Homo sapiens: one gene and its partners. The protein of the gene in region 1 purifies or fractionates together with the protein of each later gene. This does not show direct contact. Each region holds a gene or a part of one and is shown on either strand. Other genes may lie near its edges. The genes, in order: KIAA1328, TRIOBP, CCDC102A and EDEM2.

Region 1 (3,567 bases):
CAAGCCCATCCCTGTGGCAAAAATGTCATCTTTCTGGCCTGAGAACTGGGATAGGAACTGCTAGCATTAAGTATAAATGCCAGTAAATTATTAGAAAATAAAAACATACACGTGGACATTACAATGAAGCATATCAGAGATATATTAGAAGCCTTCAAAGAGTTTAGAATCTCTGGTTTTAAAAACTGCTACAACACTGGAAAGCGAACATCCACAGGTTTGGAAATAAAAATTAAAGATTGTTGCATTTGATAGGAAAAAACCCACTATTCTCATATGCAATTTCTAATGAACCAATTATTAATGAGGAATACAATTTTTAAATTTAATTTTTCTTTGTAACTGAAGATGCTGCTATAGAAAGCATAAACAAGCACTGTGAATTATAGACAAATCATTAAGTGATTTTTGGTTTCTTATATGATCTTTATATGTTACAGAACATGCTAGAGAAAACATTAAAATGACATCATAGAGATTTGTATTTAAAATTAAATTCCAACATGTATGAAACTAATGTGTATGAAGAGTTAAATCTTTTTAGAAAATCTGATCCCCAAGAATAATCACCTCTATATAAACTAAAATTCATATTTGGAAATACTTTATTAGAAATCTATGCAAATGTTGGCACAGCCTACAAAATACTCTTAGCAGCTCCACTGTCAGTTGCATCAACAGAAAGATCCTCCTCAAAATTAAAAATTAGAAAAAATTGGGGGATACAGTTCCAAGATGGCTGAATAGGAACAGCACCAGTCTGCAGCTCCCAGTGTGATCGACAAAGAAGATGGGTGATTTCTGCATTTCCAGCTGAGGTACCTGGTTCATCTCATTGGGACTGGATGGACAGTGGGTGCAGCCCACAGAGGGCAAGCCGAAGCAAGGTGGGGCATCACCTCACCCAGGAAGCGCAAGGGGTCGGGGGACTTCCCTTTCCTAGCCAAGGGAAGCCATGACAGGCAGTACCTGGAAAATAGGGACACTGCCACCCAAACACTGCGCTTTTCCAACAGTCTTAGCAAATGGCACACCAGAAGATTATAAACCACACCTGGCTCAGTAGGTCCCATGCCCACGGAGGCTTGCTCACTGTTAGTGCAGCAGTCTGAGATCGACCCGCGAGACAGCAGCCTGGCAGGGGTAGGGGCATCTGCCATTGCTGAGGCTTCAGTAGGTAAACAAAGCAGCCAGGAGGCTCAAACTGGGTGGAGCCCACCGCAGGTCAACGAGGCCTGCCTGCCTCTGTAGACTCCACCTCTGGGGGAAGGGCAGAGCTGAACAGAAGGCAGCAGGAACTTCTGCAGACTTAAACATCCCTGACAGCTCTGAAGAGAGCAGTGGTTTTCCCAGCATGGTGTTTGACCTCTGAGAACGGACAGACTGCCTCAAGTGGGTCCCTGACCCCTGTGTAGCCTAACTGGGAGACACCTCCCAGTAGGGGCCGACTGACACCTCATACAGCTGGGTGCCCCTTGAGATGAAGCTTCCAGAGGAAGGATCAGGCAGCAATATTGCAGTTCTGCAATATTTGCGGTTCTGCAGCCATCTGCTGGTGACACCCAGGCAAACAGGGTCTGGAGTGGACCTCCAGCAAACTCTAACAGACCTGCAGCTGAGACACCTGACTGTTAGAAGGAAAACTAACAAACAGAAAGGAATAGCATCAACATCAACAAAAAGGACATCAACACCAAAACCCCATCTGTAGGTCACCATCATCAGAGATCAAAGGTAGATAAAACCACAAAGATGGGGAGAAACCAGAGCAGAAAAGCTGACAATTCTAAAAACCAGAGTGCCTCTTCTCCAAAGGATCACAGCTCCTCGCCAGCAATGGAACAAAGCTGGACAGAGAATAACTTTGACAAGTTGACAGAAGTAGGCTTCAGAAGGTTGGAAATAACAAAATTCTCCAAGCTAAAGGAGGATGTATGAACCCATCTCAAGGAAGCTAAAAACCTTGAAAAAAGATTAGACGAATGGCTAACTAGAATAAACAGTGTAGAGAAGACCTTAAATGACCTGATGGAGCTGAAAACCATGGCAGGAGAACTACGTGACGCATGCATAAGCTTCAGAAGCTGATTCCATCGAGTGGAAGAAAGGGTATCAGTGACTGAAGATCAAATGAATGTGTAACGCCTAACCTTGTTTTTTACTCTAGCTCACTACTTTAAATTTTCCTTTTTTTGTCTCCTTAATTGCCAGCCATGTTTCCCATATGAATACACTCTCCCTGGCTGGGAAAGCCGGACAAACTCCATTTGACCTCTTGATTTACAAGACATTAAGGGCTCCTTACCCAACCCCCTTCCTTAAGGAGTTAACCTGTGTAAGCAGATCCTCAGCATTTCAAAGGAGCCCAATTAACTGGTAAGATACTGGAGCAAACAATGTATGAAGTTCCCAGGGTTTTGCTCAAAGAGATAACAACACAAAGCCTTGAGTTCCTGTCTGGCATAGCATTTATATCTAACTATAATGAAGGATTTAGAGCCTTGCACCTGGTACCCTTGCTCTTTTTGTAACCATTTGTCTTTTAAATTGTTCATTTCTCTGTAACCATTTGCTTCTTTTGATTCTTGCATGTTTTTACTTCTGTAGAGTTATTGCATTTAAGTCCCCCTCCCCTTCCTAAACCTAGGTATAAAAGTTAAGCCCCTTCATCGGGGCCAAGAGAATTTTGAGCATTAGCCATCTCTTTGGCCGCCGGCTTAAATAAAGGACTCTTAATTTGTCTCAAAGTGTGGCATTTTCTCTAACTCCTGTGGCTATAACAAATGAAATGAAGCAAGAAGTTTAGAGAAAAAAGAGTAAAAAGAAACGAACAAAGCCTCCAAGAAATATGAGACTATGTGAAAAGACCAAATCTACGTTTGATTGGTGTACCTGAAAGTGACAGGGAGAATGGAACCAAGCTGGAAAACACTCTTCAGGATATTATGCAGGTGAATTTCCCCAATCTAGCAAGGCAGGCCAACATTCAAATTCAGGAAATACAGAGAACACCACAAAGATACTCCTTGAGAAGAGCAACCCCAAGACACATAATTGTCAGATTCACCAAGGTTGAAATGAAGCAAAAAATGTTAAGGGCAGCCAGAGAGAAAGGTCAGGTTACCCACAAAGGGAAGCCCATTGGACTAACAGCTGATCTCTCGGCAGAAACTCTACAAGCCAGAAGAGAGTGGGGGCCAATATTCAACATTCTTAAAGAAAAGAATTTTCAACCCAGAATTTCATATCCAGCCAAACTAAGCTTCATTAGTAAAGGCAAAATAAAATCCTTTATAGATAAGCAAATGCTGAGAGATTTTGTCACCACCAGGCCTGCCTTACAAGAGCTCCTGAAGGAAGCACTAAACATGGAAAGGAACAACCGGTACCAGCCACCGCAAAAACATGCCAAATTGTAAAGACCATCGATGCTAGGAGGAAACTGCATCAACTACGAGCAAAATAACCAGCTAACATCATAATGACAGGATTGAATTCACACATAACAATATTAACCTTAAATGTAAATGGGCTAAATGCCCCAATTAAAAGACACAGACTGGCAAA
Region 2 (3,567 bases), on another chromosome or scaffold:
AGAGGCCCTCCCAGTCCAGGCTGGGGACACGGGCCCAGACCCCCTCTCCTGGTGCCCGGAGAAGGCCAAGCAGATCCCTCCAGTCAAGCTCGGGTCGCCTCTCAGAGCCACGCGGGTATGGACACGCTCCCTCTGCCCCCCAGCCCACAGCAGTGGGTGTCCCAGAGTGCCAGGATTGTGAGGACTCTGCGGGGCCTCCCCAGTTCTCAGGGGGGCTCGTGAGTGGGCTTCTCTTTCCTAGTTCTCTGGGGAGCTCATGAGTGGGCTTCTCCTCCCAGGCCTCTGGCTGCCCCCAGCTCTCCTTGTACTCCCTGGAAGTGCCCCCCCATGCTCCCTCCGGGGCTTTGGCTGCCCCCAGGCTGGGCTCTCCACATCCCCACCAGCCCCCAGGGCCCAGGCCTCCCTCCTGGCTGCTCCAGCTCCTTTCTAGGTGTCTATGAGGGCCCTGGGACCCTGGCGGTTCCTCCTGACTCTGCCACACCCCCAGAGGCTGTCTTGGGCCTGCTTGGCCACTCTCCAGAGGTCTCTGTGTCCGCAGCTCCCTCTCAGGGGTCCTGGCTGATGTCCTGGGGGGCAGCGGGGACCCCTGGAGCTGCCGATCTCCCTCAGGTCTCTTCTCAGGACTCCAAGGATGAGGGGGCTCTGCTTGGCTCCGCCGGGTCAGTTCTGCCTGTTTGGCAGGGAGCATGGTCACCTGGGGATGAGGTGAGGGGGTAGGTGAGGCTCTCTCTCTGGGGACCTGGCTGCCAGCTCTGCCTTTCTTAGGCCCCCAGAGAGTCAAGGCTGTGTCCACACAGCAGCCTGAATCAAAGCAGGCCAAAAAGTACACAGGGTCTCTGCCCCACCCCTCCGGGGTCAGCTCCTCCCTTTCACCCGCTTTCCTCAGTTCCAGAAAAAGATCTGCAAAGACCTGCCCCCGTTCTTGGCTTCTCACCCCTCTCAAAGATACTGATTCCAACTTGGGCTATCAGGTGCCAGAACCTCCACCACCAATACCCCATTCCACTGAGGCGGGCCTAGCCCTCTGGGTTTGGTTAAAGATACAAATTACCCTGAAAGAGAGGGCCCTTAGAGCCAGATTCTTGCTTCAAGGCTTTCCCTGAAATCTGCTCAAGACAGCAGTATTGGCCAGGTGCCGTGGTTCACGCCTGTAATCCCAGCACCTTGGGAGGCCAAGGTGGGCGGATCACTTGACGTCAGGAGTGACCAGCCTGGCCAACATGGTGAAACCCTGTCTCTACTAAAAGTACGAAAATTAGTTGGGTGTGGTGGCACACGCCTGTAATCCCAGCTATTTGGGAGGCTGAGGTAGAAGAATCACTTGAACCTGGGAGGCAGAGGTTGCAGTGAGCCAATATTGTCCCACTGCACTCCAGCCTGGGAGACAGTGCAAGACTCCATCTCAAAAAAAAAAAAAAAAAAAAAAGACAGCAGTGCTTAGTAAAGGAAGGGGATAGCGTGGGAGAGGGGCTATCTTCAAAGGATTAATGTGGGGTCTTGTGCATTTTGCCAAGAGCTGCTGGCCGTTGGGGAGAGGGGAGAGCTGGATCCCCATGATTGGACTCCGACCCTTTCATAGAGGACCTTCCTGTCCAAGCCCCCTGCCTGGCTTCTAGCGGGAGGGAAGAGGCAGTGGCCGCCCCTTGGGGTGCGGGGCCCCAGACAGCTGGCAGTGCTCACCTGCCTGCTGGGGGCAGGGCTGGACTGTCTTCGGAGAAGTTGGCTCTGGCCTTGGCTGGGCTGCTGTGACCGTCCCTCGTCCTGGGCCTGGAAGGCCCCCGCTGCCTCGGACTTCCTATGAGCAAATGCAGCCACTCCTCTGAGGGACTGTCCCACTCCCAGCACCCCAGCCCCTCTGCTCCCACCTCCAACAGGAGGAGATGTGGGACAGCCAGGGACCCACTGCAAGCTCGTTGAAGGGCCCTAAGTGAGGATGACTCTCAGGGCCTTAGTTTCCCCTTCTGAAAAATGGGGATGGTTAACACTGCTCTATTCTGCCTCATGAGGCTCTTGCGAACATGACGAGAAAAGTGGGGAGTAGAGGCGGTTGGGTGGGGAGGGGGATCTGGCCCTGGCCATGGCCCTCTCCTGTCTCATCCAGTACTTCCTATGACTAACCACCACCCCACCAGCAGCCCAAGAGCCACCCCCAGACAAAGGTTAGACTGGTCTTTGCGGGAATTAAGATTTATTGAGCACCTACTGTGTACCAGGCACTGGGCACACATAATCATTATGACAAAGCATTTATTGAGTGCTTCTTATGTTCCAGGGGCCAAGCACTTGTATCATGATCGCAGCCCACGAGGTGGGACGACAGAGCCAGACTGCTGTGTGCCCCCGTGTTCCATTCTTTCTGCCTTTTCCTGTCCATATTGTAAATTTTGGATTTCTTTTCCTTTTTCCCTCCCATCACTGTTAACCAACAGAATCCCAGCGCTTAGCCTTGAAAACTCCAGGCCATCCTAGCTGTTGGCAAAAGAGCTCTGAGCAAGATCAGAAGAAAGAAACATTCTCCCTGACAACTTCAGAGAGGCCAACATAAACTGTCCAAGCAAGTGTCTTTTTTTTTTTTTTTTTTTTGAGATGGAGTCTCGCTCTGTCACCCAGGCTGGAGTGCAGTGGCGCGATCTCGGCTCACTGCAACTTCCATCTCCCGGGTTCAAGTGATTCTCTGCCTTAATCTCCCAAGTAGCTGGGATTACAGGCATGAGCCACCACGCCTGACCCTGGGCAAGTGTTGTTTCTAAGACACTGGGCTTCAGGCATTGTTGACGCATCCGATGAAGATCATCTCTAACTTGTGTAAAAAGTCTAGTTCCAGTTAGTTGTCTTGCTTACTAACTGGGAGGCATGGCTGTTAATGATTAACGTGGTATCTCTATTGACAGGTAGAAACACCAAACAGAACCTGGGCATATCTCTCCCTTCCTCTACCTAAGGGGTCACAACAAAAGGCCCAACCACTCCATGAATGTTTATTTTGGTTGGGTCTCAGTTAGCAAATGGAGCCATGTCTTTGGTCGATGAACTGAACCAGGAAGAGAAGCCTGAAAAAGGCCACCCTGTGGTGGACCCAGAGTGAGGCAGCAAAAAGGGAAGTATGAGGAAACTCTGCTCAGGCCTCCATAGGCCCTGCTGTCTGTGGTGGGCCTGTGCCTGAGGAGCCATGCTGGAACGACACCTTCAAAAGTATGGGATTGGGCAGGGCGCAATGGGTCACGCCTGTAATCCCAGAACTTTGGGAGGCTGAGGCAGGCGGATGGCTTGAGCTCAGGAGTTCAAGACCAGCCTAGACAACATAGTGAAACCTAGTCTCTAAAAATACAAAAATTAGCCCAGGTGTGGTGGCTCATGCCTCTAATCACAGCACTTTGGGAGGCTGAGGTGGGTGGATCACTTGAGGTCAGGAGTTCGAGACCAGCCTGGTCAACATAGTGAAACCCAATCTCTACTAAAAATACAAAACTTAGCCAGGCGTGGTGGCACGTGCCTGTAATCCCAGCTACTCAGGAGGCTGAGGCAGGAGGATCGCTTGACCCCAGGAGGTGGAGGTTGCAGTGAGCT
Region 3 (3,567 bases), on another chromosome or scaffold:
AGGGCGTTGGTAGGTGGGACTGTTGACGCCATCCCTGGGAGAGAAGAAAGTCGGCTGTGGCAGGGACTGGTCCCAGAGTGAGCCTAGGCACTGCATCAGTTTGAGTGGCTGGTTAGCCTGGACCCTGGGCAGGTATGGGGCGGCCCATCCTGCCCAGCCACAGGAAGCTCTAGGCCACCTGGATTTGCAGGTCCTCGTCCTCGTCCAGGTCACTGGTTCCATCCTCGGCCTCCTCGGTGCCAAAGCGAGCACTGCGGATCTTCCCGAAGAGGGGAGCGTTCTGCTGCTGCCTGCGGAGCCTGTGGGGTGGGGGTGACAGGAGGTTAGAGCAGCCTGGCTGGTAGTCCCCCGATAAGGTGGCTGCAGCTGGTGCTGGAGCAGTTAAGCCTTCCCTGGTGCTTTCCCTGCTGTCTCATCTCCTGTAATCTCCTTATATGATAGAAGTGCCATTATCACCCCCATTTTACAAGCAAGGAAACCGAGGCACAGAAAGGTGAAGTCATTTGCTCAAAGTCACACAGATGGTGGGGAGTGGGGCAGAGCTCTGAACTGAAGTGGGTGGTGCCAGAGCAGCTGGGCGGTTAGAGAGGTGAAGGAGCTGGCTCAAGGTCATGCTGCAGGATTTGAACCCAAGCCTGGCTCTCAGAGCACAGGCAGCAGAGTTGGTTGGTGTGACAGTGCAGGGTGGGCTGAGCCCTCTACATTCCCAGTGTCAGTGAGAAAGGGCTCAGCCCTAGTTCTTCCTCACATTAAAATTCCTAAAGTCAAAATTTACGAGGAAAACTTTGAGTCTAAGAAGAGCTGGTGAAGGAAATGCCGATCCCTCCCCCAACCCCCCAGCAAAGTGGCCGCCCCGGCTGCATCTTACTGGAAGACATGAATTATTAACACGTAAGGGAGGGGCACAGGCGGGGGCCTCCATTACTGCACAGTGATTTAGTGAGCTGTCCCCGGAACATTAAAGCACAAAAAGTTGGAAAATAAAACGACACAGCGGTCCTGGGTGGCCCCACCCTCCCCGATGGAAGCACTTGAGAGGCCCAGCAGGGCCTGCCTGCCCACTTCTGGAGTTTATGGCTCCTGAACAATGTGACCCAGACTGCGGGAAAGCCCCAAGGCTAAGTGGTCTTTTGAAGGGTGTGTGCTGCAGGGTCAGAGCAGGCAGAGCCAGCCAGGCATGGGTCCTGACTTGGGCCCACGCCTGGGCCCCTGCACAACACTTTATGGGCGTCATCCCAGGCAGATGGGGAAATCGAGGCTCAGTTTACCATGGCACAATAGCTGTTAGGTCTCTGCAGCCCATTCTCTAAGCCACAAGATCTCAGCAAACAGCAGCATATAGTAAATGCTCAATAAATAAGGGCTTGGATGGCTGATGGCCAGGGGTGATTCTGCCTGGCCACCCACCAACTGTGTGGCCATGGAAAGACTTACCCTCTTGGGCCTTAGTTTCCTCATCTGCCAGCCCCCTAGGAAAAAACATCTTTCCTTTCTCTCATAGAAGCAGCGTGATGCTGATGCACAACATGTAACCCAAATATAAGCCCCTCCGCAGCGGTAGTAGTAACAGTAGTAATAGCAGCAGCTGCTGACAATCACTCAGCATTTATTATGTGCCAGGTGTTTTCTTTCTTTTTTTCTTAGAGACGGGATCTCACTTTGTCTCCCAGGCTGGAGTACCGTGGTGTGATCACAGCTCACTACTATAGCTATGAACTCCTGAGCTCAAGTGATCCTCCTGCCTCGGTCTCCCAAGTAGCTGGAACTACAGGCACACACCACCATGCCTGGCTAAGTTTTGTATTTTTTGTAGACATGGGGGTCTTGCTTTGTTGCCCAGGGGGTCTCAAACTCCTGGTCTCAAGCAATCCTCTTGCCCTGGCCTTCCAAACTGTTGGGATTACAGGTGTGAGCTACCATGCCTCCAGGTACTTTCTTAAGAATGGATCAGCTCATTTAATACTCACAACAATCAAGAGGTAAGAACTATCATCATCCCCATTTTACAGATGAAGAAACTGACACAGAGAGGTTAAATAAATGTCCCAAGGCCACACAGCTGCTAATGCTGAGCCAGGCTTCAGACCATTCAGGCAGTCTGGCTGCAGAACCGGGCACCCTCTATTCCACGAAAGAAGAGAATGCAACTAAGTGCATTCTCAGGGCCCGGCACAGGTCAATGCTGTGGCTCCGATGCTCCTTGGGCCTCCCAGCTGTGAAGTGGGAGGGACGTGGACTGAAGTTTTCTGATATCGCCTGGTTCTGTGATTCACAGAGTGCTGGGACAGAGACAGGGTTGGGAGAGGGAGGCAGAGTGTGCTGGGTGGGGCCTGTTGGCAGTGGACGGGATCCAGGCCTGGGGCCCCTCCACGAGTCCCTGCTCACCAGTCTCTCAGATCCCTGCTGTCTTGGTGTCACCTGGGCCCAGTAACGCTGAGGGCTGCCTATTTGAGCCCTGCTGGCCCCACCCACTGCCCCAAGCCTTGGGCCTGACCTCTCCAGCCCGCCCTTCCTGCCCTCACTCTACCCACCAGCCCTCCTGCTAGAGGAGACAATTCCAGGGCCTGCAGCTGGCCTGACTTCCTGCACCCCCTGCCCTGGTTTCCTGGCTCTGGCCCTTCCTGCCCGGAGGGGACAGGATTCTGGCTCCAGGCACCTGGATCTCTTCCTTCGTCTCCCCCTCCAGCCTTGGTTTGGGCTCCGTCCCTGACCGGAGGGTTCCCTGGCTGGAAGTCTCTGCCCTGTTTCTGTTCCCTGCCCGGGGCCCACCTGGACTGCAGGTGCTCCAGTTGCACTTGCAGGTTCTCGCTCTGCTCCGTCTGCTCGTCCAGCGACCGCTGCAGCTTACGTGCCTGGTTGTGGGCCTCGTCCAGCTGTGGGGGTGAGCAGGGCCGAAAGCACGAGGGTCACCCAGGGCTGGGCAAGGCCGGCCACCCGCCCAGGGAAAACCACTCCTGCTGTTCCCTGGGAAGGTGCTCCTCCGAGAGTGTTTGCTCCTTGAGGCCTAGGCTAAGGCTTACCTCTTCTAGAAAAGCATCCCTTTGGTTCCTCTCCATCCCCTTTGCCTCCTCTTGCACATCTACCCATCCTCCCAGGCCCTGCACTACTGATGCAGCCATCCACCTCCTATCCTTCTGTCCCCATCAGTCTGTCCATCGGACCATTCGTCCAGGGAGATATTCATCTGCCCATGGAGACAGTCACCCACCACTCCCCATCCATTAATCTAATCAGCAGCCCATCTAGCATGCCTAGCCATGCCTTCCTGCTCTCCCGGACACACCTATCTTCCCGTCAACCTGGCCTTCTTTCTCCCTCTGTATTCGTTCTTCCACCCACTGACCCAGTCAGCTGTCCATCCATCTGTCCACTCTCTACCCATCCAGCCATCATCTGTTCATACATCCATTGGATCCACCCATCCATCTGCCCGCCCTGCCTCTCTCTCCCATTCATCCATCCATTCATTCCTTTACCCATTGGTTCATCCATGCACACATCCATCTTGTCTTCTGTTCATTTTTCTTCCCATCTTCCCACCCACATGTCCATCCTGCCATCCATTCA
Region 4 (3,567 bases), on another chromosome or scaffold:
CCTTCTCACTCATTTCCTGATTTGAAAGAGCATATGGGGCCAGTCGCAGTGGCTCACATCTGTAATCCCAGCACTTTGGGAGGCCAAGGTGGGCGGATCACCTGAGGCTGGGAGTTCAAGACCAGCCTGACCAACATGGAGAAACTCCATCTCTACTAAAAATACAAAATTAGCTGGGCATGGTGGCTCATGCCTGTAATCCCAGCTACTCGGGAGGCTGAGGCAGGAGAATCGCTTGAACCCAGGAGGCGGAGGTTGCGGTGAGCCGAGATCACACCATTGCACTTCAGTCTGGGCAACAATAGCGAAACTCCATCTCAAAAAAATAAAAATAAAAAAGAGCATGCAATTTAGTTAGGAGCCCTGGGTTCCAGGCCTAGCTCCTGCACTTAAGAGCCAGAGGCGAGCCATTTCATCCCACTAGGCCTCAGTTTCCATATCTGAAAACATGGGGATAATTAACTCCTAGTAAGAAAACCACCCAGAGCCACTGAAAGGAACAGATGGAAAGAAATGAACTTGTGGGCAGTTGTGGAGGATGGAGCCTTGTAGAGGGGATTTGGGGTTTCAGCAACCAGAGCCTGTGGGCAGATGACAAGCCAGAAATGCTGCTCACCTGGCCGAAGTGGGTAGCCCTCTCGCTTCTCCACTGTGTATCCCTGAGGAATGTTGTAGAATTCCGGGAGCCCCCCAAACTGCTTCCATACAGTGTAGTAGTTGAGGAAGGTCCTCATGGCATTGTCAATGTCTCCAATGAGGCTCTGTGGGAGAAAGTGGCTGTCAGGCAGGTAGACACCAGGCATAAAACCCCACAGACAACCTTAAGAAAAGACAAAGTAAAATCTGTGGGGCCAAAAAGGCCTTGAATCAATCCCTGAGTCTGCCAGTTACTCAGTGTGGTGCTGAGCCAGGCACTGGACTTCTCTGAGCCCCATCTATAAAACGTAAAATACACCACCTATCTCATGCATTGTTGGAAGGAACAAAGATTGTATATTAAGTCCCTAAATCTTCAGAGTCAATGTCAGCTAACAGTTTTGGAATTCGGCCAGCCAGTTAAAAATTCTAAGAATAGAGAAAAGTTTGTGCTAAGGCTCACTCCCACACCACACCCCCAAAAGATAACCATTTTTGTTTTTGTTTTTGAGACAGGGTCTCGCTCTGTCACCTAGGCTGGAGTGCAGTGGCACAATCACGGTTCATTACAGCCTTGACCTCCTGGGCTCAAGAGATCCTCTCACCTCAGCCTCCCAGTGCTAATTTTTTTATTTTCTGTAGAGATGGGGGTCTCACTTTGTTGCCCAGGCTGGTCTTAATCTCCTGGGCTCAAGTGATCCTCCTACCTCAGCCTTCCAAAGTGCTGGGATTACAACCATCACCCATCTTGCCTGGCCTCAGATAAACATTACTGGTTTCTTGTATAACCTTTCAGAGTTTCTTTATGCATGAGTATATGTTATTTTCCCCACACTAAAAAATAGCCTTTGGTTCTTTATTAATAGGGATATTAATTATCTCCATATTTTTAGATATGGAAATTTGGCTTTCAGATATTTTTATTTGAATTGGTTCCAACAACTAATGTGGCAATAAATAATTCTGTATATATGTCACATCAAATAGATGTAAAATGTTATGTGTAAGATACATTTTCAGAATTAGGATCACTGGGTCAAAGGATATATGCATTTATAATTTTACCACTATTGCTAAGTAGCCATTACTATTAATGTAATCTCACAGGGAAGCAGCTGACCCTGACATCTTCATTGGATGTCTCATGGACAGAACAAACTTGGCACTTCCTAAACAAAATTCTTGGTTCCCTTACTTTCCCACGAAATTGCCTCCCTACTTTGGCCTTTTTCCCTTCTTGGTAAATGACACAATGTCTACCTGGTTATTCTGGATAGAAACCCGGTGGCCACTTTTTTTTTTTTTTTTTGAGACAGGGTCTCACTCTGTCACCCAGGCTGCAATGGCATGATCATGGCTCACTGCAGCCTTGATCTTCTGGGTTCAAGCAATCCTTCCACTGCAGTCTCCTGAGTAGCTGGGACTACAGGCATGTGCCACCACCCTAGGCTAATTTTTTATTTTTATTTTTATTTATTTATTTTTATTTTTTTGAGACGGAGTCTTGCTCTGTCATCCAGGCTGGAGTGCAGTGGCGCAATCTCAGCTCACTGCAAGCTCCGCCTCCCAGGTTCATGCCATTCTCCTGCCTCAGCCTCCCGAGTAGCTGGGACTACAGGCGCCCACCACCACGCCCAGCTAATTTTTTGTATTTTTAGTAGAGATGGGGTTTCACCGTGTTAGCCAGGATGGTCTCAATCTCCTAACCTTGTGATCCGCCTGCCTCGGCCTGCCAAAGCGCTGGGATTATAGGCCTGAGCCACCGCGCCCGACCTAATTTTTTATTTTTTGTAGAGATGAGGTCTCACTATGTTGCCCAGGTGGGACTACTTTTTCTTAAAACTTTTAAAAACGTAGATTATAAAAACATTTTGGTACATGCACTATTTTGGAACACCAAAGTGGGGTAGATTAGATAAGCTCTAAGATCCTTCCAGCTGCAACTCTACCAGACCATGTAATGGAAAAACAACGAGATGGCACAGCGGCACAAGCTGCTTCCTGCCCTTCCTGAGGCCCACTGTCAAGAATGAGATTGGACAGAAACGCCCAGTGGAGAAACACCTGTTGCCAATGGCCATTCCTGCCCAGACTGGAAATGCACTGTCGACTTTAAGTACTGTAACACTCCATGGCAAACTGGAAGCTCAGTTCCTGACACTCAATTTGGCAGAACTCTAAATCTATCTAATTCACTCTAGGTCTCTCTTCCATCCTCAACCTGTCCCTCCAAAAAAAGTACTCAAGCAATTAACAAAGTACATTATTTGACTTATACATCAGAATGAGCTTGCTTTGCCAGACTCATAGAAAGATGATCACATTCTTTGATCATTCCTACCTGAAGACCAGGCCAGTAGGCCTCCAAGGACTGGAAGACTGGCATGGACACAGTCCCCTTGTACATCTGAACCCACAGGTACCAGTCATCGAAGCGGGTGTAGTTCCGGATGGCTTTGTTATACTCTGCAGTGGGGGAGATGGGATAATGGACATATGAGTGATTAGGGAGAAAAAAGGCAGGCCTGGACAGCGGAAGCGAGAACTTACACTTTGGAAAGAGCACCAGGATGCAATGAGGCAAGGAGGCTAGACAAGAGCATGGATTCTGGAGTCAAACTTCCAGCTCAAATTCCAGCTCCAGCTCTACCACTTGCTAACCGTGACCTGGGGTGGGTTTTTCCCTTTTAAGCCTCAGCCTTATGATCTATAAAATGGGGAGGCCAGGCGTGGTGGCTCACATCTATAATCCCAGCACTTTGGGAGGCCGAGGTGGGCGGATCACCTGAGATTGGGAGTTCGAGACCAGCCTGACCAACACGGAGAAACCCTGTCTCTACTAAAAATACAAAATTAGCCAGGTGTGGTGGTGCATGCCTGTAATCTCAGCTACTTGGGAGGCTGAGGAAGGAGAATTGCTTGAACCCAGGA

Evidence for each region.
Region 2: the proteins of KIAA1328 (region 1) and TRIOBP purify together in Homo sapiens (affinity purification with mass spectrometry; one large-scale study listed by BioGRID and IntAct). This does not show direct contact.
Region 3: the proteins of KIAA1328 (region 1) and CCDC102A purify together in Homo sapiens (affinity purification with mass spectrometry; one large-scale study listed by BioGRID and IntAct). This does not show direct contact.
Region 4: the proteins of KIAA1328 (region 1) and EDEM2 purify together in Homo sapiens (affinity purification with mass spectrometry; one large-scale study listed by BioGRID and IntAct). This does not show direct contact.

What each region holds. Positions count from the first base shown.
Region 1 is NC_000018.10:37,217,124-37,220,690, reverse strand, and holds part of KIAA1328 (protein hinderin), read right to left. Parts: intron 1-3,567. UniProt on the Homo sapiens protein: Competes with SMC1 for binding to SMC3. May affect the availability of SMC3 to engage in the formation of multimeric protein complexes.
Region 2 is NC_000022.11:37,731,526-37,735,092, reverse strand, and holds part of TRIOBP (TRIO and F-actin-binding protein), read right to left. Parts: intron 1,796-3,567; coding exon 1,681-1,795; intron 695-1,680; coding exon 1-694.
Region 3 is NC_000016.10:57,512,572-57,516,138, forward strand, and holds part of CCDC102A (coiled-coil domain-containing protein 102A), read right to left. Parts: intron 2,874-3,567; coding exon 2,770-2,873; intron 300-2,769; coding exon 170-299; 3' UTR 1-169.
Region 4 is NC_000020.11:35,123,274-35,126,840, forward strand, and holds part of EDEM2 (ER degradation-enhancing alpha-mannosidase-like protein 2 isoform 1 precursor), read right to left. Parts: intron 3,103-3,567; coding exon 2,978-3,102; intron 762-2,977; coding exon 617-761; intron 1-616. Other genes in the region: MMP24-AS1-EDEM2 (ER degradation-enhancing alpha-mannosidase-like protein 2), read right to left, coding at 617-761, 2,978-3,102. UniProt on the Homo sapiens protein: Involved in the endoplasmic reticulum-associated degradation (ERAD) pathway that targets misfolded glycoproteins for degradation in an N-glycan-dependent manner.